Homo sapiens: one gene and its partner. The protein of the gene in region 2 interacts with the protein of the main gene of each other region in a biochemical or structural test. Each region holds a gene or a part of one and is shown on either strand. Other genes may lie near its edges.

Region 1 (12,720 bases), on a different chromosome or scaffold from region 2:
TTACCCTGTACCTAGTACAAGGTACTTTTACCTAGGCTCCCCAAGGCACTGCAACAAATTCACAGGTTTCCAAGGAATATTTTAAATCGTTAAGAAAAACAGTGATATGTGTCAGATACCTTACGAACTACTACTAAGTTACATGGGGCACTTGAAAAATATTGAAACGTATCAACTGAGAAAGTTTGGGAACTTTGGCAATATTTAATTTTAAAGTAGATTTTTAAAATAACCTCTTTTTTTTTGAAATGAAGCACGTTTGTCATATTAACCTGAGATAATATTTAATTTGTCAACCTCTGAACTTCAATTAAAAAGTAATTTACCAATCTAAATGCAGGGGAAAAAAACCCACTTCTGAACACAAATTAAATTCTAAAATATATTCATTATGGCATCCACAGTACAGTACTAAGATTAAAAGAATGAAAATATATCCTGCCTCTCTGCCTACAGGACCCATTAGAGCAGTTACTCAAACAGAGAATAGTTTTGTAATTATTCTCCCCCTTTATTTAATCTTTTCTTAATGACAGGCCTTTCCCAATTACATGTTCTGTTCATTAGCCAAGTGACCCCATATTTCCCTGACACATCTCAATATAAATTAGTTCCATCCAGGGTGCTATTTCCACCTCAGAACTAAGATAGGAATTACTTGTATTTCCTTTGTCATGAAAGTCACAAAATCCTTAAGTTGGAAGGACTTTAGGATAAGTGGATCTGTAAATAGAATGTTGAAAGAAGAGAGAGGAAAACAATTTCTAGAGGACAGAAAGCCCTGGTTCTGAGGGAGACAGAAGAAACTGACCTCTAGGCCAAGCTCTGTTTCTACCATTAATGACCACAGGCAATTCAACTTGGATAACTTTCTTCATTTGTAAAACAAAAGGACTACAGTAAAATTTAGATGTGTTTCACAGCATCACTGAAGATCCAGTTAGAAATAGATTCTCAAGAGTACCCTGGAGATTCTATTCTAGCTCAGTAATTTGTAGTTGAATATCACAATCTGTGCCAGTGATTCTGGTAGACAGCCAGATTTCGGAACTGTGACAGACACTTTGAGTTGACTCACCCAAGTCAGTGCTAACTCCCTTTTTTCTTGTTCGCCTCTACTATGGATGCTAAAAAAAAGATTCAATATTCATTTTCCAGCCTTCCCTGAAGCTAGGAATGGTCTTTTAAACAGCTATGGCAAATGATCTGTAAAATGAAGTCTGTCAATGCCACTAACCAGTCCCCTTTCCTCTCCCTTCTTGGTGCTTTTAATTCTGACTTAATGTCTATAGGTACAGAAGTATCTTGTTTCTATAACCTACATGCTGCAGGTGGCAGAGTGGAAAGAGAAAAAAGGATACCAAGAACAGCGGGATCCACTGCATCCACCTAGACTTGTGATGTGAGGAAAATACCCCCTTTTTGTTTAAACTACTATTAGCTGCTTGTATCTGAAAGCATTTCTAAACGACATAGCAATGAAAGAGTAGATGATCTCAAATGTACAGCTTGGGTCTAATATTAAAGTTCTAATTTTAAATAATCTCATTGTCCAGAGAAGGATATCTTTCCACAGCATCTTTGACACATGGCTATCCAGATAATGATACACAATCTAAAGGCATCATTCCAAAAGTTACCACAGCTTTACCAATTCCCATTTTTTACATGCATTTTCATTCGGTTCAAAAGCAGATTCTGTTAAATTCAAGTCACAAATTGAATTAAAATGAATATATCCTAGGGAAAGGAAACACTGCACTTAAAAAGCCACATTGGGCCAGGCACAGTAGCTCGCGTGTTCGAGACCAGCTTGGGCAACATGGCAAAACCCCATCTCTACAAAATTAGCTGGGTGTGGTGGCGTATGCCTGGTAGTCCCAGCTACTTGTGGGGCTGAGATGGGAGGATCGCTTGAGCCCAGGAGGTCAAGGCTGCCGTGAGCTGAGATCATGCCCAGCCTGGGTGATAAAGTGAGACCCTGTGTCAAAAAAAAAAAAAAAGGGCAAGCCACGTCTTACATACATAATTTTTAAATGAAAAAATTTAACAACACCTTGGTTTAGGAAGGTCAGAAGGGCTGAATACCAGGGTATTCTTCATGCATCTTCCTTTCCCTTCCCCATCTTTCAGCCTAACTTACTAATCTGAAAATGAGAAACACTGTTTACGTGCAGGAAAGATGTCTTCTGCAAAAGTCACTAATAGGGGCTAACTTGGGGAAACCAGTGCACTGCTGCAAACCATCCTTTTTTCTAAGTAAGTGGGGCTCTGGCTAAAAAAACAACTGTCCCAAGGTTGAACTAGTATAAAAGAGAAAATAGTGGCCAACATATCCTCAAAACAGACCCTTCCATTTTGCCCTGTATCTAATTCACATTAAAGACAACTATTGCAGATGTATAAAATATATCAATAAATGTTGACTGATCATGGCAAGGAACCAAGCTAGACAAGGCAGATGGTTGGGTGGCTAATTGGGAATGGATGAGAAGAAAGGGTTCAAAGAGGTGCTACAAAAAGCCACAATAAATTAGCAAACTTCCAGTTTTTCTATTAGGCAATATCACCTCTAACCTTCATGTAAATAATAACTTAATTGGGAATGCACTGATTTTCAAACATGTTTTGGTGAACTTTTCATTCAACCTACCAGTAATGGTTGGGTTGTTGTTCGCTACAGCCAGGGATCCTGTGTGGTTTCGGATGAGATTGTCTTGAGTCGATGGAAGGCCTGGAGATGACCACGTTAGAGTACTGTATCCTGAAAGACTTTGCTGCTGGTGGTGCTGTTGTGATGGTAGAGGTGGAAGTGGCGATGGATGGCTGATAGCTGTATTTTGACCAGAGAATGAATTATCTTTAACTGGCCTAACAGTCGGAGCATTCTGTGAGGTAAACATTTGCCCATATGTATCACCAGCAGGCAGAGAGGGATATGAAACACTAGGATACGCGGCATTAGAAACAGTTGACATAGCATAATGACCACAAGTAGAGGGAAATCCCTGAGACGCAACAGAAGAGCTGGCAGAGTACATGGCTGGACTATTGTAGTGATTCACAAAAGAGGAGTATGGTTGGGAGGCACTCGTATGCAAATGGGATGCTGACGATGCAGCACCTTGGAAAGATCCTAGAGTGGATCCCACAATATGAGGGGCAGGAGGACCCCTGCTGTACAACTGCTGTGCTCCTGGTTGCTGGTTCACTGTGTTAGGAGTCACATTTTGTGTTGGTACTGTATAGAGAGCAGAGTAGTAATCACCACACTGGGTATCCAATGGCAATGAGGTCATTTTCCCAGGTCCTTGAGAGTAATGTCCTGAGGGAGCAATATAGTTTTGATGATGCAATCCATATCCAGATGGAACCTGCATTTGATTCTGGGCTGGACCTGAAAAAGCAAGTATTTACAGGTATTTGTAAAGAGATAACTAATTTTTAAAAATAGCCCCCATTTAAATATTGAAGCAATTAACTTTCTTTTCCATAATCCCAACTTATTACAAAAGGTATACACTGTTATAGACCCATTATGGTAGCCTGCCTCCAACATGGCCCCCAATGATCCCCACCTCCTGTTATTCACACCCTTGTAGTCCTCCCTCACAATGTACCAGGACTGGTCTGTATGAACAGTAGCATACGGCAAAGGTGATGATATGTCACTTCCATGTTAGCCCAGTCTTGAGCTCTGGCTCTCTTTCTCTCAGATACCCCAGTCTGAAAGAAGCTAACCTGCCAAGCCGTGAACAGCCCTATGAAGAAGCCCATGCAAGGAGGAACTTAACTCTCTGGCCAACAGCCAAAGAGAAACTAAGATCTGCCAACAACCACGACTGAGCTTTCAGGCAGATCCTCCAAACTCAGTAGAATCTTGAGATAACTATAGCCCAGCCAACAGGTTATCTCATGAGAGACCCTGAGCCAGAACCACCTAGCTAGGCTGCTCCCAAGTTTATCTTCCTGAGAAACTGTGAAATAAATAGTTGTTGTTTTACAAGTTGTTAAGCTTAGGGGGTATTTTGTTATGCAGCTATCAGTAACTAATATACCCATCCTGGAAGAAGTTTAAACTTTGAGACAGGGTCTCGCTCTGACCCCAGGCTCTATAGAGTGTGATGGCTATAGAGCGCGATGGCATGATCATGGTTCACTACAGCCTTGTTCTCCTGGGCTCAAGCAATCTTCTCACCTCAGCCTCCCGAGCAGCTGGGACCACAGGCGTGCACCATGGTGACCAGCTAATTTTTACTTATTTATTTTTTACAGAGACAGGCTCTCACTGTGTTGCCCAGGCTGGTCTCCCATACACCACGGCCCAGCCAATGTTTCTAAATTTATTTTCTTGTAGAGACAGGGTCTCACTGTGTGCCCAGGCTGGTCTTAAACTCCTAGAGTCAAGTGACTCTCCTCCCTCAACCTCCCAAAATGCTGGGATTATAGGCATGAGCCACTGCACACAGCTAAAACTTTTTTCTCAGTTTTTATTTTTCCTAACTAGAAAAGTAACAATATACCCACTGTAGAAAAAATTCAAACAATAAAGAGTATGAATTAAAAATCTCTGCCTAGTAGCTTATATCCTATTTCCCAGATATAGTTACAGTTAATGCTTATGCATCCTCTGTATATCCATGTATCTATGTAATGCATATGTAAGCATGTATATAATTTACTTGATTTTTTAAACACACAAAAAGGATATTACAGTTCCGCAACTTGCTTTTACTTAATATATGCTGAATATCCTTAAGTATTAGCATATATAAATCCTCATTATTCTTTTAAAAATTTACATATAGTACTTTATTGTAGAGATATAACATTATTCACCAAATCTCCATTGATGAATATCTTGGGGTTGAACTAATCTATATTTATGAGGTCAACTTTTATGATGAAGCTATAAGACAAATTTCTAGAAGTCAAACTGGAAGTTCAAAAGGTTTATGTTTTTAAAATTGACATTATTGGCAAATATCTCTTAAAAGGTCTATCAATTTATACCTCCCATCAATAATGCTTCATATTGCCTCATTGTCCCAATACTGACTATATATTAATCTCTGCCAATCTGAAAAGTGAGAAACACTTTAGTTTACAGTAGTTAACTTTGAATGATGCTGAGACTCTCATTTGGGTGTCTTTCTCTGCTGTTTGCTTTTTCTGTAGCATTGCGATTTCCTTAATGATTTCTAGCTGTTCTCACACAGTAGAAAATTAGCCTAATGTTATGTGCTGTAAGTATTTCCCCCAGGTTACTGTTATGTTTTCACTTTGTTCATGGTATCTTTTGCTATAGTTTCTTGATTATGTAGTAAAATTCTTTTTTTATGCTTGACAGATTTTTAAATCATACTTAGTAGAGGTTTCTTCATTTCAAGATTATAAAACTATAAAACCATGTTTTACTCTAGTGTTTTATACTTTCATCTTTATATATCTTTGATAAGTATAGCATATATTTATTTTATTAATACCAACAAAACATTAATCCTAATATTAGTCTTATTAATATTAATATATTAATATATTACATTATATGCCATTCACTGTTCTAAATGCTTTACATATATTAACTTCTTTAATCCTCTAAAGTAAATAGTATTATTATACCCATTTATCAATAAGTGAGCCACAAAAGTCAAGATGTTTAACACAGTTACATGCTTAGGAACTAAATGGGCCGGAATTTGAATCAGGCAATCTGGCTCAAGTTTATGCTCTTAACCAATGATCTGCTGTCCTTTGCTACAAATGGCCAATTGTCCCAAAAACAGAATTCTAGTTTTAGTTCCAATTACTTTTCTTTGGGTTTTGGGCAAATCTTAATTATCTTGGAATCTAATTTTTCTGTCTTGTGGAAGGAAACAGGTATCTGTGCCATATCTCAAATCAAAGGATAATTTAATAGAAAATTGACAAGATGTTTTAGCTCCACTGACACAAGTACACAAAGGAAGTACCACTACACTCCTTGCCATAATAATGTATTAAAATACTTGTTTATAAAAGAGATAAGAATAAAGCATACATTTTCTAATTGTTTTCAATTTGTACTAAGTAATGTAATGGAATCTTCATTTCTGGTCATGTAATATATATTCTACGGCCAGCATAAAAATAACTTACACAGTCAAGCTGTAAGGGAAAAATATCATCTACATTCCTCCTATAATTCCAAGAAGTATACAGAAAACCAAAATACTGATAACGCTATTTTACTAGGTGTATAATTTACTTTTCTTAGATTATTTTAGATGGTAATAATTCATCTGAAAGAATTTATTTACTTAAGGAAATAAAGTCTGTTAGGATCTTTCATTAACACGACAAAAGTAAAATGTTGTCCTCCTTTCTCCTATTTAAATATATTAAAAGATGGATCTGCTACCTTTCACTGTAGTGTCAGAAAACTCTACACTAGTAGAATTTATCAATGAAGAGCCAAGTCAGATTTAGAGAAATCTGTTCAAATATCTACCCACTTAGTGACTGATCTGGCATATCCATGCTACATGATCTGAAACGAGAAATAATCATTATGTCCCAACTATTCAAATGTCATTCTTTTAAAAATAACAGGAATGTCCTAGCTGCTGAAATTTATCAGAAGTGAGTTGCCCACCAGAATAAGTCTATTTACTTTCTAGCCTATCAAAGAAAGGTACTTACTCCAGGAAAACATGGGGGGTGGGAATATCTAATATATCTAATCATATGTGGATGCTTACTATTTCATACTTTATATCAAGACCTAAATGTTCCCAATGTATAAAAAAGTATCTGAAAGTAATTAAAGTTAATAAAGACAAATGTAAATCATTTTTAACATGTATTCAGTATTTTTAAATTACTGAGATATTTTGCTTTTTTGTACTATTTCTTCAAAAATCATTATGTATTTTACACTTATAGCACTTCTCAATCTGATCAACCATATGTCAAGTACTCAACAGCCATGTACAGCTAGTGGCCACCACACTGGATGGTGAAAGTCTACAGCATATGTCTATGATTCCAGTTGTTTCTGCCTCTCATGACAGATTAAATTTTCTGCCCTCAGTGTTTTCCCCCTATTCTTTTCTCGTGTACCTGCTTCAGTTTTCTTCCACATTTATTTAAGCTCTATGGCCTCCAAATATTGTATTCCAAGAAAGAACTATTTTTTCGAAGAGTAGAGCAACACAGTGCATTATGTACACATATACATATATTATGTTTAACTTATCTGAATAAAAAACTCTTGTAGTAATTATTCATCTGTGATCTTTCTTGGGATTCAAAATGATTCTGCAGCATGTATGAAAAGACTGCTGGTATTTTAATACTTCTAAAATAGACATAAAAGTTGTGGAGGAAAAAAATTTGTTACATATATAGTAAAATTTCTGAAAAATAACTTCAGAAGTACTTTTCTTATCACAAATGTGATACAGTCATTGTAAAAAAAAAAAATACAGAAAGTGATCAAATAAAAATCATCTTAATCTTCCCGAGATAACCTGCTAACATTCTGATGTATATCCACCCAGTATTTTCTTTTTGCATATATATGTATAATTTAGTTAAGCAAAAGTGGGATTATAATGTATCTTTTAAATGATTCCTTCATTTAGCATGATTTGAATATCTTTCCATCATTATTTTTAATGTCTGAATAGTATTCCATTACATGAATTTACCATATTTTAATCAATTTTCTATCTGCCATTTAGGTTTTCATTTTTTTAACATAAACCACCTAATAAATAGATCTGTAGGTAATTTTTGTGTTCATTCACTTTACTAAAAATAACTTCCTACCAGTTGCAATTGTTGGGTCAAGTCTCTAGTTGGCAGCTTAACTGTGCAGAAGTGGGAGATGTCAGGATGCCCAGCAATAAGGGAGGTAGAGATCAGAATCAAAGTGGGCCCAGAAGCCAAATTTGGCAGAGACTGCAAAGTCTTTATAAATCTATTCCAAAAATGAAAAGAAAATATATTCCAAAAATTGGGGGAAAATGTTACCAGTAAATGAACAGACAAGGGATATCGAGAGAAATGAAAACTATTTAAAAAATATTCAAAATAAAACAAATAAATATGCTAAATGGTCTCTACAGTATGGCAGAAGACTTAATGAACCTTGATTAAGTTGACCAACCTTGAAGATTGGTTAAGAAAATGATCTAAGAAACATAGAGAAAAAAAAAAGGCTGAAGAAAAATGAACAAAATTCGAGAGACCTGTGGGACAACACATAGCAGTCTAACACTTGTAATAATCAGTAAAGCATGTAGTGGGCTAAAGAGTGGCCCGCTAAAAGATTATGTACACATCCTAATCCCCCCAATCCTGTGAAAATTACATGGAAAAGTGTGATTATTGCCTTAAATGACAAAAGACATGCTTAGGTTAAAGATCTGGGGAAGAGGAGCCTCTCTTGGATTATTTGAGTGGGTTCTAAATGCAATCACATGTATCTTTATAAAATATACATACAGAAGAAAAGACATACACATAAACAGAGAGAAGGCAATGTGAAGTTGGAGCACAGAGTGATGTAGCCACAAGCCAAGGAATGCCAACAGTGAGACAAGTAGGAAGAGTCAATGAACATATTACTCCCCTATGAGCCTACAGAAGGAGCATGACTGCTATGGTTTAAATGTTTGCTCCTCCAAAACTCATCTTGAAATTTCATTGCCATTGTAACGGTATTAAGAGGCTGTGCCCTTATGAATGCATTAATGCCACTATCACAGAAGTGAGATTGATATAAAAGGGCAAGTTTGGTCCCCTTTTCTCTGCCCTCACCTTTGCCCTTCTGCCACGTGATGTTTTCTGCCATGTTATGACACAGCAAGAAGGCCCTAGCCAGGTGCTGGCACCTGATCTTGGATTTCCCAGCCTCCAGAATTGTGAGAAGTAAATTTCTGTTCATTATAAACTAGACAGTCTCAGGCATTCTGTCATAGTAGCACAAAATGGACTAAGAAGTAGACCTGCCAACACCTTAATTTCAGACTTCTAGACTTCATAACTGCAGAAAAATACATTTATGTTGTTTTAAGCTACCTACTTTGTGGCCATTTGTTTCAGCAGTCCTAAGACATTAATAAAGATATAGAACAGAAATTCTCAAAGTGTAGTATACAAAACTCCAGCAGTGCCAGAAACTCTTTGGGGAAAATCCATGAGTAAAAACTATTTTCATAACAGTACTAAGATGATATTTGCCTTTTTCACTGTGTTGACAATTATACTAATGATACAAAAGCAATGATGGCTGCAATGTGAACCCTGGGGCACAAACTGAAGCAATGGCACCAAGCAATACTAGCAGTTACTATATTCTTCACCACCATGCACTCACACATAATTTTATTAGATTAAAAATGATGGTCTCTGTGAAACATAAAGCACTTTTATTGCACACTGAAGTATAAATGTTATCTTCAGGAAAAGTATTTGTTTAACTTAGCTGTGAGCTCTACCATTGAACAAAACTTCAGCAAATAGAAAACAACAATATATTGAAAGTAAAATACATTATGACCAAATGGGGTTCATATTAGGAATACAAGGCTGACTGACCATTTGAAATACATTCAATGTGATTCAACATATTAACAGACTTAAGAAAAAGCCACATAATCACATCAATAGATACAGAAAATGCATTAGATAAAACTTGGCATCCATTCATGATAAAAACTCTCAATAAACTAGGAAGAGAAAGAAACTTTCTTAACCTGATAAGGACTATCTACTAAAAACCTATAGCAAACCATACTTAATGGTAAGGGACAGACAGACTGCTTTCGTCCTAACATTGATTACATGGAAGGCAAGATGTCCTCTCTCATCATTCCTATTCAATAATGTACAAGATGTAACAGCCCCTTCAGTGAGGCAAGAAAAATAAATAAATAGTAGATAGACTGGAAAGGAGTAAAAAAAAAAAAAAAAAAACAAAAAAAACCTGTCTTTATTTGCAGAATGACATGACTAAGTAGAAAATCCCAAAAAAATCTTCCAAAAAATGCCTGGAATTAATAAGTGAGTTTATCAAGGTCATAGAATATAAGGTCAATATACAAGAATCAATTATGTCTCTAAAGATCAGTAGTAAACAAGGGGAATTAAGATTTTAAAAAACAGTATCATTTATAATAGCACAAAAAGAAGTACTTAGATGTAAATCTAATGAAATATGTTCAGAACCTATATAAAGAAAACTACAAAACGCTGATGAAAAGAAGCAAGGATTTAAAGAAATGGAATGACATACTGTGTTCATGGATTAGAAGACTTGATATTATGATGTAACTTATCTCAATTTTGATCTTTAGATTCAATGCAATCATAATAAACAACACCAGCAGGTTTTTTTTGTAGATATCAACAAGCGGATTCTAAAATTTCTATAGTAATACAAAGTTACTAAAAACAAAGAAAAACTGAAAAGGAACAAAGTTGGAAGACTCACATTACCCAATTTTAAGGCTTACTTTATAGGTTACAACAATTTAAGAAGTGTGGTATTGGTGAAAGGACAGATACACAGAATGCAACAGTCTAGAAACAGACCCATAAAAATACAGTCAACTGATTTTTGACAAAGGTGCCAAGGCAATGCAATTGAGGAAAGATAGTTCTTTCAACAAATGGTGCTGGAATAACTAGATATCTACATGTGAAAAAAAGAAAAGAACCTCAACATATACCTCTGGTCTTAAACAAAAATTAAGTCAAAATGAATCACAGGCCGGGTGTGGTGGCTCATGCCTGTAATCCCAGCATTTTGGGAGGCCTAGGTGGGCGGATTACCTGAGGTCAGGGGTTGGAGACCAGCCTAGCCAACATGGTGAAACCCCATCTCTACAAAATTAGCCGGGCATGGTGGTGCATGCCTGAAATCTCAGCTACTCGGGAGGGCTGAGGCAGGAGACTCGCTTGAACCTGGGAGGCGGAGCTTGGAGTAAGCCAAGATCGCACCACCACACACCAGCCTGGGCGACAAAAGTGAAACTCCATCCCAAAAAAAAAAAGAATCCTAAATCTCATTGTAAATTAAACACTTAAGAGAAAATATGGATTTTTGAAGGGAATCTGGGATTGACAATGAATTCTTACTACAGAGGCCAAAGGGGCAGCTCCCCTTGGCCCTCTGAAGGTGTGCTGAAAAATCAACTTGCAAAAGGCAGATTAACAGGATAAAAGACATACAAATTTATTTAACGTGTAGACCCAAAGATAGAGGAAACTGTCCATTTTTATCCTTAGGTTCAACAAAGTACGGACAGCCATGCAGAAGTATAATTGGATAAAAAGGCTATAATCTAATGTGAACAGACTGAATGGGGAAACCCAGGAAGGCCTATCTGTTTAGATTCTTCTTGGCCTGAGCACACATTCTTTCTTTCTGCTTATGGGGCAGGACCCTCTCTGGAATAGGGGTCTTATGACCTACATTCAAACAATGTAGGTGAGATAATTTCTTTAAGGCCAGTTTTTACACATAGGACAGAGGGAAAGTTAGAATAATATTTTTAGGTTTTGTGGCTTGCTTTGGGGAAAAAAGGTTCCAGTTTCTATGACCTGCCTTGGGGAAGAGGGAATCTGGTTTCTAAGGCTAGCCTCAGGGGAGAACGGGACTGAGAGACAGGCAGGCAACAGAAAGTCAGAGAAAAACTTTTGCTTCTGAGGCTACTTCTGAGGCCTTCATTTTGGAGTTTTGTTTTATTTTTCTTTCTTTTTTTTTTTTTGGAGACAGAATCTTGCTCTGTCACCCAGGCTGGAGTGCAGTGGTGCGATCTCAGCTCACCCCAATCTCCACCTGAGGGTTCAAGTGATTCTCCTGCCTTACTTTCCCTAGTAGTTGGGAATACAGGCACCCACCACCATACCTGGCTAATTTTTGCATGTTTAGTAGAGACAGGGTTTCATCATGTTGGCCAGGCTGGTCTTGAACTCCTGGGCTCAGGCAATCCTCCTGCCTCGGCCTCCCTAAGTACTGGGATTATAGGCGAGAGCTACTGCACCCAGCCTGAGGTTTCATTTTCTGAGCCTCAACATTACCTATGATACTCAAAGCATAGTCAGCAACATAAAATATTGAGAAACTTGACTTTACCAAAATGAAAAAAAAAGTTTGCTCTGTGAAAGGAGCTAAGGATTAAAGACAGATAAGACACAGTTGGCCAGGTGTGCCTGAGGTCAGGAGTTCGAGACCAGCCTGGGCAACATGGAGAAACCCTGTCTCTACTAAAAATACAAAAATTAAACGGGTGTGGTGGCGCATGCCTGTAATCCCAGCTATTTGGGAGGCTGAGGCAGGAGAATCACTTGAACCCAGGAGGTGGAGGTTGCAGTGAGCTGAGATCACGCCATTGCACTCCAGCCTGGGGGACAAGAGCGAAACTCCGTCTGTTGCGGGAAGTCAGGGATACCGAACGGCAGGACCTGCTGAAGCCGTGACAGAAGAATATAAATTGTGAAGATCTCATAGACATTTATCACTTCCGCAATCAATACTCTTAATTTCCTATGCCCTCTTAATCCTTTCATCTTCGTAAGCTGAGGATGTATGTCGCCTCAGGACCCTGTGATGACTGCGTTAACTGCACAAATTGTTTGTAGAGCATATGTGTTTAAACAATATGAAATCTGGGCACCTTAAGAACAGGATAACAGCGATTTTCAGGAACAAGGGAGATAACCTTAAAG
Region 2 (12,720 bases):
TTTATTCCTCCGGCGGAAAGTTTAGGAAACATCCTACAACAAGCCCACATCTGAAACAGCTGGTTACAACAGTTTTACCTCCAAGTCAGATCCCCAACCTGACCAACAATCATCATCTCCCTGGCTACTCTCCCATCACTGACCATGGGGACAGCAGGAATGCCTCTATTCATTCCTGCCTCATTCCATCCTCGATAAATCTTTCTAAAGCACAAATCACTAATGTCACTACCCTGCTCAAAACACTCCAGTGGGCCGGGGTGCGGTGGCTCGTGCCTGTAATCCCAGCACTTTGGGAGGCAGAGGCAGGCGGATCACTTGAGGTCAGGAGTTTGAGACCAGCCTGGCCAACATAGTGAAACCTTGTGTCTACTAAAAATACAAAAATTAGCTGGGTGTGGTAGTGCCTGTAATCCCAGCTACATGGGAAACTGAGGCACGAGAATAACTTGAACCCAGGAGTCAGAGGTTGCAGTGAGCTGAGAATGCATGACTGCACTCGAGCCTGGCAGCCTAAGTGACAAAGTGAGACTGTCCCTAAAAAAAAAACTAAAATTAAAAATTAAAAGAAAACAGGGGCTTAGCCTTGTTCACTGCTGAATCCCCAGAACTTTAACAGTGTCTGACACCTAGGAAGAATTCAATAAGCATCTGTTGACTTCTAAGTTTTTTGGTTTTTTGTTTTATTTTTGAGATAGGGTCTTGCTCTGTCACCCAGGCTGGATACAGTTGTACAATCGTGGCTCACTGCGGTCTCAACCTCCCAAGTGATCCTCCCATCTCAGCCTCTCACACTGCTGGGACTACAGGCATGAGCCACCACATCTGGCTAATTTATTTTATTTTATTTTTTAATATTTATTTATTTGAGACAGAGTCTCGCTCTGTCACCCAGGCTGGAGTACAGTGGCATGATCTCAGCTCACTGCAACCTCCGCCTCCCAGGTTCAAGCAATTCTCCTGCCTTAGCCTCCTGAGTAGCTGGGATTACAGGCGCTTCCCACTAAGCCTGGCTAATTTTTCTATTTTTAGTAGAGACGGGGTTTCACCATGTTAGTCAGGCTGGTCTTGAACTCCTGATCTCAGGTGATCCGCCTGCCTCGGCCTCTCAAAGTGCTGGGATTACAGGCGTGAGCCACTGCACCAGGCTTTTTTTATTTTTTGTAGAGATGAGGGTCTCACTATGTTGCCCAGGCTGGGACTGATTTGTGTTTTTTTTTTTAAAGTAGATATTAAACATACATCTCAGATGACAAGTGGAATTTATTCCCAAAGTGCAAGGATGGTTTAACAAAAATCAATTAAGGTAATATGCCACATTACTAGAATGAAGGAGAAAAACAATGATCATCCCAACTGATGCAGAAAAAGCATTTAACAAAATTCAAGATAACTTTTTGATTAAAAAATACTCAATGAAATAGGAATAGAAGGCAATATCCTCAACATAATAAAGGGGTATATATGAAAATCTCACAGCTTACATCACACTTGATGGTGAAAGACTAAAAGCTTTTCCCCTAAAATCAGGAACAAGACAAGGATGCCACTTCTATTTAATCCAGTACTGAAAAGTTTTAGCCAGAGAAATTAAGCAAGAACCTTCTCACTGCCTCATTTACCCTTTCTCTCCAGGCATCTCAACTGGACAGGAAGTAGTAAAATTATTTCCGTTCCTAGATGACATGATCTTACATGTAGAAAACCCTAAAGATTACACACACACACAGCTAATAAATGAATTCAACAAAGTTGTAGGATGCAAAATGAACATGCAAAAATCAGTTGCATTTCTATTGTTCACTGACAGTGAACAATCTAAAAACAAAATTAGGAAAACATTCCATTTATAATAGCATCAAAAAGAATAAAATACTTAGGAATAAATTTAAGCAAGGGAGACAAAAGACATAAACTGAAACATTGCTGAAACAAATTAAAGACGTAAAATAAAGGGAAAGAAATCCCACTTTCCCACTTTCATGGATTGGAAGATGATATTCTTTTTTTTTTTTCTTTTTTTTAGACAGAGTCTTGCTCTGTCACCCAGGCTGGAGTGCAGTGGCACAATCTCGGTTCACTGCAATCTCCGCCTCCCAGGTTCAAGCGATTCTCCTGTATCAGCCTCCTGAGTAACTGGGATTACAGGTGTATGCCACCACACCTGGATAATTTTTGTATTGTTAGTAGAGACAGGGTTTCACCATGTTGGCCAGGCTGGGAAGACAATATTCTTTAAATGACAACGTTATCCAAAGCTATCTACAAACGCAATCCATATCAAAATGCAATGCAATCCCTATCAAAATTCTAACAGCTGGCCAGGCACGGTGGCCCATGCCTGTAAACCCAGCACTTTGGGAGGTCAAGTGGGGAGGACTGCTTGAGCCCTGGAGTCCTCAAGACCAGCCTGGGCAACACAGTGAGACTCCATCTCTACAAAAAATTTTTTAATTAGCCAGGCACAGTAGTACATTCCTGTAGTCCCACCTACTTAGCAGGCTGAGGTGGGAGGATCACTTGAGCCTGGGAGCTCAAGGCTGTAGTGAGCAGTGACTGCGCCAATGCATTCCAGCCTAGGTGACAGAGCAAGACTCCGTCTCAAAAAAAAAAAAAGAATATTGTCTTCCAATCCATGAACGTGGGATTTCTTTCCATTTACTTGTTTAAAAAAACAAAAAAAAAAAAGCTGGGTGCAGTGGCCCACGCCTGTAATCCCACCACTTTGGGAGGCCAAGGCAGGTGGGTCATGAGGTCAAGAGATCGAGACCATCTTGGCCAACATGGTGAAACCCCGTCTCTACTAAAAATACAAAAATTAGCTGGGCGTGGTGGCAGGTGCCTGTAATATCAACTACTCAGGAGGCTGAGGCAGGAGAATCGCTTGAACCCAGGAGGTGGAGTTTGCAGTGAGCCAAGATTGCGTCACTGCACTCCAGCCTGACAACAGAGTGAGACTGTCTTAAAAACCAAAAAAAAAAAAAAAAAAAAAGAAAGAAATTCTCCCCATTACTTTGTCCAAAGAAAAAAGTGGGAACCCTGAATAGCCAAAACAAACTTGAAAAACAAGAACTAAGTTGAGGACTCACACTTCCTGATTTCAAAACTTACTATAAAGCTACAGTAAGCAGAACAATGTGGTACTGGCATAAGGTCAGACATATAAAACAATAGAGAGCCCAGATCTTCTGTAGTTCATCAGTATGATACCTGGGTGTTTCACACACATGTGAGATGAGTCATTCTTGAACCTTGTTATGATGTCAGCACTACCCATCTAACCTGAAAAAAAGAAAAGAAGAAGAAAAAAGAACCCAAAAATAAACTCTCACAAATATAATCAACTGATTTTTGACAAAGATGCCATGACCAGTCACTGGGGAAAGGACAGTCTCTTCAACAAATGCTACTGGGAAAACTGGATAGTTACACGCAAAAGTGAAGTTGGACTCTTATACACAAAAATTAACTCAAAATAGATCAAATAAATGAAAAAAGAAGAGCTAAAACTGTAAAGCCCTTAGAAGAAAATATAAGAAAAAGATCTTCATGATGCTGAGTTTAGCAAGGATTGAAAAGTATAGGCAACAAAAGAAAAAAATTGATAAACTGGAATTCATAAAAATTAAAAACTTTTGGCCGGGCGTGGTGGCTCACGCCTTAATCCTAGCACTTTGGGAAGCCAAGGCAAGCGGACTGCTTGAGCTCAGAAGTTTGAGACCAGCCTGGACAACATGGCAAGACCCCATATCTTAAAAAAAAATAAATACAAAAAAAATTAGCCAGGCATGGTGGTGTGCACCTGTAGTTTCAGCTACTTGAGAGGCTGAGGTGGGAGGACTGCTTGAGTCCAGGAAGTGGAGGCTGCAATGAGCCAACACTGTAGCACTGCACTCCACCCTGGGTGACTGAGGGAGACTCTGTCTTAAAAAAGAAAAAAAAAAAAAAGTTAAAAATTGTGCAAATCACACAATAAAGAGAGTGAAATGCTAACCAACAGAATGGGAGAAACTATTCACAAATCATATATCTAACAAGGGTTTAATATCCAGAATTTGTAAAGAATTCCTACAACTCAACAATAACAACAAAATAACAATTAATAACTCAAAGTGAGAAAAGGACTTGAATGAACATTTCTCTAAAGAAGATATACAGGCTCGGTGGGGTGGCTCATGCCTGTAATCCCACCACTTTGGAAGGCTGAGGTGGATGGGTCACTTGAGCTCAGGAGTTCAAGGCCAGCCTAGGCAACATGGTGAAACCCCATCTCCACAAAAAATATGAATATAAGCCAGGCATGGGGGCACATGCCTGCAGTCCCAGCTACTTGGAAGACTGAGGTGGGAGGATCACTTGGGACCAGAGGCTTGAGGCTGCAGTCAACTGTGATTGCGCCACTGCAGTCTGGGCAACAGAGCAAGAAGACCCCGTCTCAAGAAAAAGAAAAAGAAAAAAAAACCCAAACAACAACAAAAAAGAAGATATACAAATGGCCAATCAACATATGAAAAATTGCTCAACATCAATATTCCTTAGAAAATACAAATTGAAATCACAATGAGATACCAATTCCCACCCACTGGCCCTTGGGTACATGTGCACAACATACAGGTTTGTTACATATGCATACATGTGCCATGTTGGTGTGCTGCACCCGTTAACTCGTCATTTACATTAGGTTTATCTCCTAATGCTATCCCTCCCCCCTCCCCCCATCCCCCGGCAGGCCCTGGTGAGTGATGTTCCCATGTCCAGGTGTTCTCATTGTTCAATTCCCACCTATGAGTGAGAACATGCGGTGTTTGGTTTTCTGTCCTTGCGATAGTTTGCTCAGAATGATGGTTTCCAGCTTCATCCATGTACCTATAAAGGACATGAACTCACCTTTTTTTATGGCTGCATAGTATTCCATGGTGTATATGTGCCACATTTTCTTAATCCAGTCTATCATTGATGGACATTTGGGTTGGTTCCAAGTCTTTGCTATTGTGAATAGTGCCGTAATAAACATACGTGTGCATGTGCCTTTATAGCAGCATGATTTATAATCCTTTGGGTATATGCCCAGTAATGGGATGGCTGGGTCAAATGGTATTTCTAGTTCTAGATCCTTGAGGAATCGCCACACTGTCTTCCACAATGGTTGAACTAGTTTACAGTCCCACCAACAGTGTAAAAGGGTTCCTATTTCTCCACATCCTCTCCAGCACCTGTTGTTTCCTGACTTTTTAATGATCCCCATTCTAACTGGTGTGAGGGTATCTCATTGTGGTTTTGATTTGCATTTCTCTGATGGCCAGTGACGACAAGCATTTTTTCATGTGTCTGTTGGCTGCATAAATGTCTTCTTTTGAGAAGTGTCTGTTCATATGCTTCACCCACTTTTTGATAGGGTTGTTTGATTTTTTTCTTGTAAATCTGTTTAAGTTCTTTGTAGATTCTGGATATTAGCCCTTTGTCAGATGGGTAGATTGTAAAAATTTTCTCCCACTCTGTAGGTTGCCTGTTCAGTCTGATGGTAGTTTCTTTTGCTGTGTAGAAGCTCTTTAGTTTAATTAGATCCCATTTGTCAATTTTGGCTTTTGTTGCCATTGCTTTTGGTGTTTTAGTCATGAAGTCCTTGCCCATGCCTATGGCCTGAATGGTATTGCCTAGGTTTTCTTCTAGGGTTTTTATGGTTTTAGGTCTAACATTTAAGTCTTTAATCCATCTTGAATTGATTTTTGTATAAGGTGTAAGGAAGGGATCCAGTTTCAGCTTTCTACATATGGCTCCTGGATCGATAGTTTCTATGTAGAATAATGAAAACATTCTGGAAATGGATAGTGATGATGGTTGCATAACAATGTGAATACATTTAATGTCACTAAATAGTACACTTAAAAATGGTTAAAATGGGCCAGGCACGTTGGCTCACACCTGCAATCCCAGCACTTGGGGATGCCAAGGTGGGCAGATCACTTGAGGTCAGGAGTTCAAGACCAGCCTGGCCAACATGGTGAAACCCTATCTCTACAAAAAATACAAAAATTAGCCGGGTGTGGTGGCACATGCCTGTAGTCCCAGCTACTTGGTAAGCTGAGACAGAAGAATCGCTTGAACCGGGAGGCAAAGGTTGCGGTGAGCAGAGACCACGCCGTTGCATTCCAGCTTGAGTGACAAGGAGACTCCGTCTCAAAAAAAAAATCACCAAATAATTTTTGTTTGTTTGTTTTGAGAGTCTTGTTCGGTCACCCAGGCTGGAGTGCTGTGACACGATCCTGGCTCACTGCAACCTTTACCTCTGGGTCCAAACAATTCTTCCTCAGCTTCCCAAGTAGCTAGAATTACAGGTGCGTGCCACCATGACCCTGCTAATTTTTGTATTTTTAGTACAGGCAAGGTTTCACCATGTTGGCCAAGCTGGTCTTGAACTTCTGACCTCAAGTGATCCACCCACCTTGGCCTCCCAAAGTGCTGGGATTACAGGCATGAGCCACTGCACCCAGCCACCAAATAATTTTAAAAGTATAATGAGAAGAGGCTTGCCTGCCACCATGTAAGACATGCCTTTGCTCCTCTTTCACCTTCTGCCATGATTGTGAGGCCTCCCCAGCCATGTGGAACTTATATTCATTGCTCAACAAGGAAGAGACTTGCAAGGCTATTACCCTGGGCAGTTGGCAAGACTCCATTTTGATCATAGTGCAAAGAGAGCTCTCAGATTGGAACAAGAAATTAGCCACAGATTCACTGAATCCTTGACCTCTTAGTTCACTGCCACAGCTCTACTATTGTGAAGAGAGAAGCGGTTTTGAAAGAAATGCTTTTAAATTAAAATAACCAAGGCATTCGAACAAAATATCGTTTGGCATTCTTAGGTAACTCTTTTAGACTAATGTAATGGTAGCAAAACTACTTTTAAGTGTGTATACAGATGGCTCTAATCCTAAAATATTTACATGCTGCAAATTATTTTCAGATTAAGTTGGTCAGCTTACAACAGGGGATCAAGAGCTAGCCTTAAGAGAACTTGTTTTTTACCCCATTACCAGTCTTATTGCTGATGCTGGCAAACCATCATACATTTAGGCCAATGGTTATATGTAGGCTCAGGTAAGAAGATTACTGCATCTGCTCAGTAAGTGCATCACCGTTGGGAAAAATAAAAAAGAACCTAGGGGACATAGCCAATGAGGAAGAAGACTGGCACTAGAGACCCTAAAGGGGCTTGGGATGGAGAAACCCAGGTGTAGCATAGGGCTATAGTGAGATGTGGGACTGGTAAAAAGGATTAAGTGAACATCTGTACACAGGAGTTAACACCCTTATCTGGGCAAGAAGAAAGCCTGACAACTAGGCATCAGCTCCTCAGGCAGAAAGCTAAAGGGTCTTCTCTAAGGACAGGAAAGGATCCCAAAGAAAAGAACCTTTGCGGGGCGCAGTGGCTCACGCCTATAATCCCAACACTTTGGGAGGCCGAGGCAGGCAGATCACCGGAGGTCAGGAGTTCAAGACTAGCCTGGCCAACATGGTGAAATCCCATCTACTAAAAGTACAAAAACTAGCCAGGTGTGGTGGCAGGTGCCTGTAATCCCAGCTACTTGGGAGGCTGAGGCAGGAGAGTCGCTTGAACCCAGGGGGGCGAAGGTTGCAGTGAGCCGAGATCGCACCACTGCACTCCAGCCTGGGCGACAAGAGCAAGACTCTGTTTCAAGAAAAAAACAAAAAAACCTTACCAGTTCCCCAGCATACTAGTGGGCTCCCTCCTCATTTACCCCAAAGTAACACCTATCAATTAATAAACTTCTCCCCCCAAAAAAAAGTATAATGAGGATTAAAGGATATAGATGAAACAAGAGTGTCCCCAAGTTAATGACTAAGTGACAGACATAACTGAGTGATAGGTACACAAGGGCTTATTGCTCTCTATTTGGATGTATATTTGAGTTTTACTATAATAAATATTAAAAAACAAACAAGTCTTCAAAATGTGCAAAGCTTTTCAAGAATTTATCCCCTTACAAATTTTAGCAAAAATGAGTACAGAAGAGGAGGCAGGGAAAGGCAAGGCTCAGAGGGATTCAACAGTATAAAAAATAAAATAAAATAAGAATAAGAACAAAGATTTGGCTATAAGAATACAATCACAGTAATATTTAGAACGGGAAGGAAATGTGTTATGTATTTTATAGTAAAACCTGAGACAAAGAGCAGAAACCATTAAAAACAATCTAGACGATTAAAACACTTAAGCACAAGCTGGAAGACCCTGGATACAAACTTGACTCTGAGCTTCCTAGTGGCCAAGGCAGAGAGAGGAAAACATCAACATAGTTCTAGTATACTTAGAGGTATACTACAGGCGCATGCCACCACACCTGGCTAACTTTTGTATTTATAGTGGAGACGGGGTTTCACACATGTTGGTCAGGCTGGTCTCGAACTCCTGACCTCAGGTGATCCACCCTCCTCAGCCTCCCAAAGTGCTGAGATTACAGGCATGAGCCACTGTGCCTGGCCAACACCTTGTATATTTTATGCTTTCTGAAAATGCTAAATATCAAATAAGCCACTGGTTCCCAAATGTTTTGATCATGAATGCCCAACAACAAAAATTCAAGTATATGCTCCCAATACATGTACACTTACATATAAATTATATATGTACTACAGTGATAATACAGTGTACATTATAAAGTACATAATAAAAATTATTATGGTGGTTCATGCCTGTAATCCCAGCACTTTGGGAGGTTAAGGTGGGTGGATCACTTGAGGCCAGGAGTTTGAGACCAGCCTAACCAATATGGTGAAACCCCATCTCTACTAAAAATACAAAATTAGCCAGGTGTGGTGGTGCACAGCTGTAATCCCAGCTACTCGGGAGGCTGAGGCAGGAGACCAAGATTGCAGTAAACCAAGATAGCATCAATGCACTCCAGCCTGGGCAACAGATTGAGTGAGACTCCATCTCAAAAAAATAATAATAATAATTAAATGGGGCCGGGCGCGGTGGCTCACGCCTGTAATCCCAGCACTTTGGGAGGCCGAGGCGAGTGGATCATGAGGTCAGGAGATCGAGACCATCCTGGCTAACAAGGTGAAACCCCGTCTCTACTAAAAATACAAAAAAATTAGCCGGGCGCGGTGGCGGGCGCCTGTAGTCCCAGCTACTCGGGAGGCTGAGGCAGGAGAATGGCGTAAACCCGGGAAGCGGAGCTTGCAGTGAGCCGAGATTGCGCCACTGCAGTCCGCAGTCCGGCCTGGGCGACAGAGCGAGACTCCGTCTCAAAAAAAAAAAATAAAATAAAATAATAATAATAATAATAATAATTAAATGAAGCTGAAATAAACAGGAAAATTAGTTTTATTTTTTTCCTGAGATCCACGTGCATCTTTATGCTTACATACCAACTTTGGACCCCACTGCAAAGCTTCCTTATGATTTAGCATCCCTGCAACCATTCTAGGTTAGTGCCCTTGACTGCTTAAGCAGAAACTGTCAAATGGCAGTGGTCAAATTGCTGTCACCTTCTTGCTGAGTTCCACCATCCCCACACTAGAGTCAGTGACGCTGGCTTCCTCCCACCACCCCTACCACCTTCTTCCACTACCCTTACCTGCCAATGAGCAACAGAAAAGACTGTGGGCTGCGTGCAGTGGCTCACGCCTGTAATCCCAGCACTTTGGGAGGCCGAGGCGGGCGGATCACCTGAGATCGGGAGTCTGAGACCAGCCTGACCAATAGGGAGAAACCTCGCCTCTACTAAAAATACAAAATTAGCCAGGCGTGGTAGTGCATGCCTGTAATCCCAGCTACTCAGGAGGCTGAGGCAGGAGAATCGCTTGAACCTGGGAGGCGGAGGTTGCAGTGAGCTGAGATCACGCCATTGCACTCCAGCCTGGGCAAGAAGAGCGAAACTCCATCTCAAAAAAAAAAAAAAAAAAACAGACTGTGGAAGCAGGTACAAGAACAGCATAAAAGGATGGACTCTTTTGTCAGCCAAATCTCAGTTTGCACACAACACACTCCGTCTCAAATTCGCTAGGTGACCCAGGGCCAGTCAAATAACTTTTCTAAAACTCTCCGTAAAGGGGGTGATAACAGTGTTATCTCACCTGGTTATTATGAAAACTAAGTGAGATAAGCTAATATTACAGTACCTAGGACACTGCCTAAACAGCACAAGTGCTCGATATCACCCAGAATTATTACTCTGAGTGGCAAAAGACGACACCTGAACCTTGTTTCTTTAGCCAACTCAGTAAGGTAGCAAGTTCTAACGGAAGGAGCTCAGGTGGCAGAGGTGTGGCAGACCTGGTTTGAAGGATGATCCACCCTTGACAAGCTGGGTGACCTTGTAAGAACCCAGCTTCTCTATGAGGAGTCCTCTCATCTGTTCAACGGGGGTGATGACACAAACTGTATATGAAGTACCTGTCAGAGCCGGTAAAACACTGGCAACCACCAATGGTGAGAGTAAGCAAACAGCACATGAACCTGTCATTCCAGGATCCCTGAGGCACATTCACATGCATGGCTAGATTCTGAGAGAGAAAACATCCCTAAAGTCTACCACCAAATGTTAATATACATACCTGCAGTGAAGCCCACAGGCACACTTTTTCTTTCCTTTTTTAGTTTATTTAATTCCTGAATCGCATATGCCTCCATTTTTCTAGTAATAAACTTGTAGTAAACTTTTTACCCACCTAATGACAGTGACTGAGGGAACGGGGGAAGGGCCCCAAACCAGTGATTATAAAGTCCACGGAGATCTCTAGAGAGGGGGCGTTTTTGCCGCAACAGCAAAAGAAAAGAGAGAGCATTCAAGCCAGGCGCGGTGGCTCACGCCTGTAATCCCAGCACTTTGGGAGGCCGAAGCGGACGGATCATGAGGTCAGGAGATAGAGACGATCCTGGCTAACACGGTGAAACCCCGTCTCTACTAAAAATACAAAAAAGTAGCCGGGCATGGTGGCGGGCGCCTGTAGTCCCAGCTACTTGGGAGGCTGAGGCAGGAGAATCGCTTGAACCCGGCAGGCGGAGGGTGCAGTGAGCCGAGATGGCGCCACTGCACTCCAGCCTGGGCGACAGAGCGAGACTCCATCTCAAAAAAAAAAAGAAAGAAAGAAAAGAGAGAGCATTCAAACATCAGATCAGTTCATAATAAATTTAAAAAGCCTAATTCTTTCCATTTCAATTTATGACCAAAAGAATAAATATGGAAATATATTTATACAGTGTTAAATATATTTATATAGTGTTTTTTACATCATGTGCTCAGTGGGAATACTGCAAATGTGTAAAACACCTAAAATGTAAACTATATTAACACACATTTTAAAAGATACAGGTCTTGGCCGGGCACGGTGGTTCACGCCTGTAATACCAACACTTTGGGAGGCCAAGGCTTGTATAATGCTTGAGCCCAGGAGTTAAAGACCAGCCTGGGCAACACAGCAAGACCCCCATCTCTACAAAAAAATACAAAAATTAGCCGGGCGTGGTGGCACACACCTGCTGTCCCAGCTACTGGGGAGGCTGAGGTGGGAGGATCACCTGAGCCCAGGAAATCAAGGCTGCAGTGAGCCGAGATCGCGCCACTGCACTCCAGCCTGGGAGACAGAGTGAGACCCTGTCTCCAAACAAACAAACAAAAAACAAGTCTTTAGGCATCACTGAGGAACACCTAAAATGGATACAGCACTAACTAGACACCCTCGACCCTGACTCCCTAATAAAAGCGTCAGTCTTTTGCTCAATATCCTGACCTGACAGCAAACCAATAAAGACACGGCATAACCAAACTCCACAAATTTTTGGCCAAATAAAAGAAACACACGCAACGCTAACATTAAACCTTTTCTATGGCCGCTTCACGATAAGTATTACAAAATCCCCAGAAAGAGTTTATTCACCTAGCTCCGACTGTCGCCATACAAGGTGGAGCAGTGAGTGACCCGAACCAGGGGCTGACCCCTGCCAGAGCCCCCACAGCGACTCACTGCCCCCCCCTCCGCATTCCCATCTGCACAACTTTCTGTGATTCAAACAGTCCGGAGCCAGGGCTCCCTGCAACTAACGCTATCGTGACATTATAAGCCGGTTAAATACTGAGGTCATAAACCCACTCAGAAGTAAACAGAAGCAACATTAGTGAGCAAAGTTGAGGTTTAAGCAATACGGAAAACTAGAAACCAAGCAAAACCAGCAAAGCAACTAGCGTTGTCTCTCAATAAGATCTTCCAAAAGAGGCAAAGTGGAGAACCTGCTCTCCCCCGCACTCCGGAAAACCCAAACAGCACCAAAGCAGGTTCTACAACAGCTTCCCGGAGCAACTAGGCCAGGGGATGCGACGCCGCGCATCTCCCCCCGTCACACCAGGGGCCCGCGGAGGTCTGGTGGGGACGCGGAGCTCCAGGGGCCGGCCGGTGCAGGGACACGGCCGGGTTGGGGGTGGGGACGCGCGGCCCTGCCTCCTTGCCGGCCTGCGGTCTCCAGGGCCGGCCCGCACGGCTGCTGGACAGCGCCATGCCCACGCACCCCCGAACCTAGCGGCCCCCATTCCGGAACTCCCAGCTCCACGCGGCTGGGGTCGAGCTGGGGCCCGCGGGCAGGCGCCCTGAGCACCCGCGTGACGGTACCTGTGGTGGCAGCACCTCCCAAGCTGCGGCGGCGGCGGCGGCGGCGACGGGGGCGGCAGCAGGGGCGGAGCGCGGCGTGCGCGCTCT

What was found.
Region 1: the proteins of SCAP (region 2) and SEC24B form a complex in vitro, tested with the Homo sapiens proteins (one study listed by BioGRID).

What each region holds. Positions count from the first base shown.
Region 1 is NC_000004.12:109,453,578-109,466,297, reverse strand, and holds part of SEC24B (protein transport protein Sec24B), read right to left. Parts: intron 3,398-12,720; coding exon 2,654-3,397; intron 1-2,653. UniProt on the Homo sapiens protein: Component of the coat protein complex II (COPII) which promotes the formation of transport vesicles from the endoplasmic reticulum (ER).
Region 2 is NC_000003.12:47,463,166-47,475,885, forward strand, and holds part of SCAP (sterol regulatory element-binding protein cleavage-activating protein), read right to left. Parts: 5' UTR 12,634-12,720; exon of another isoform or gene 12,258-12,633; intron 8,351-12,257; exon of another isoform or gene 4,888-8,350; intron 3,284-4,887; exon of another isoform or gene 3,184-3,283; intron 1-3,183. UniProt on the Homo sapiens protein: Escort protein required for cholesterol as well as lipid homeostasis.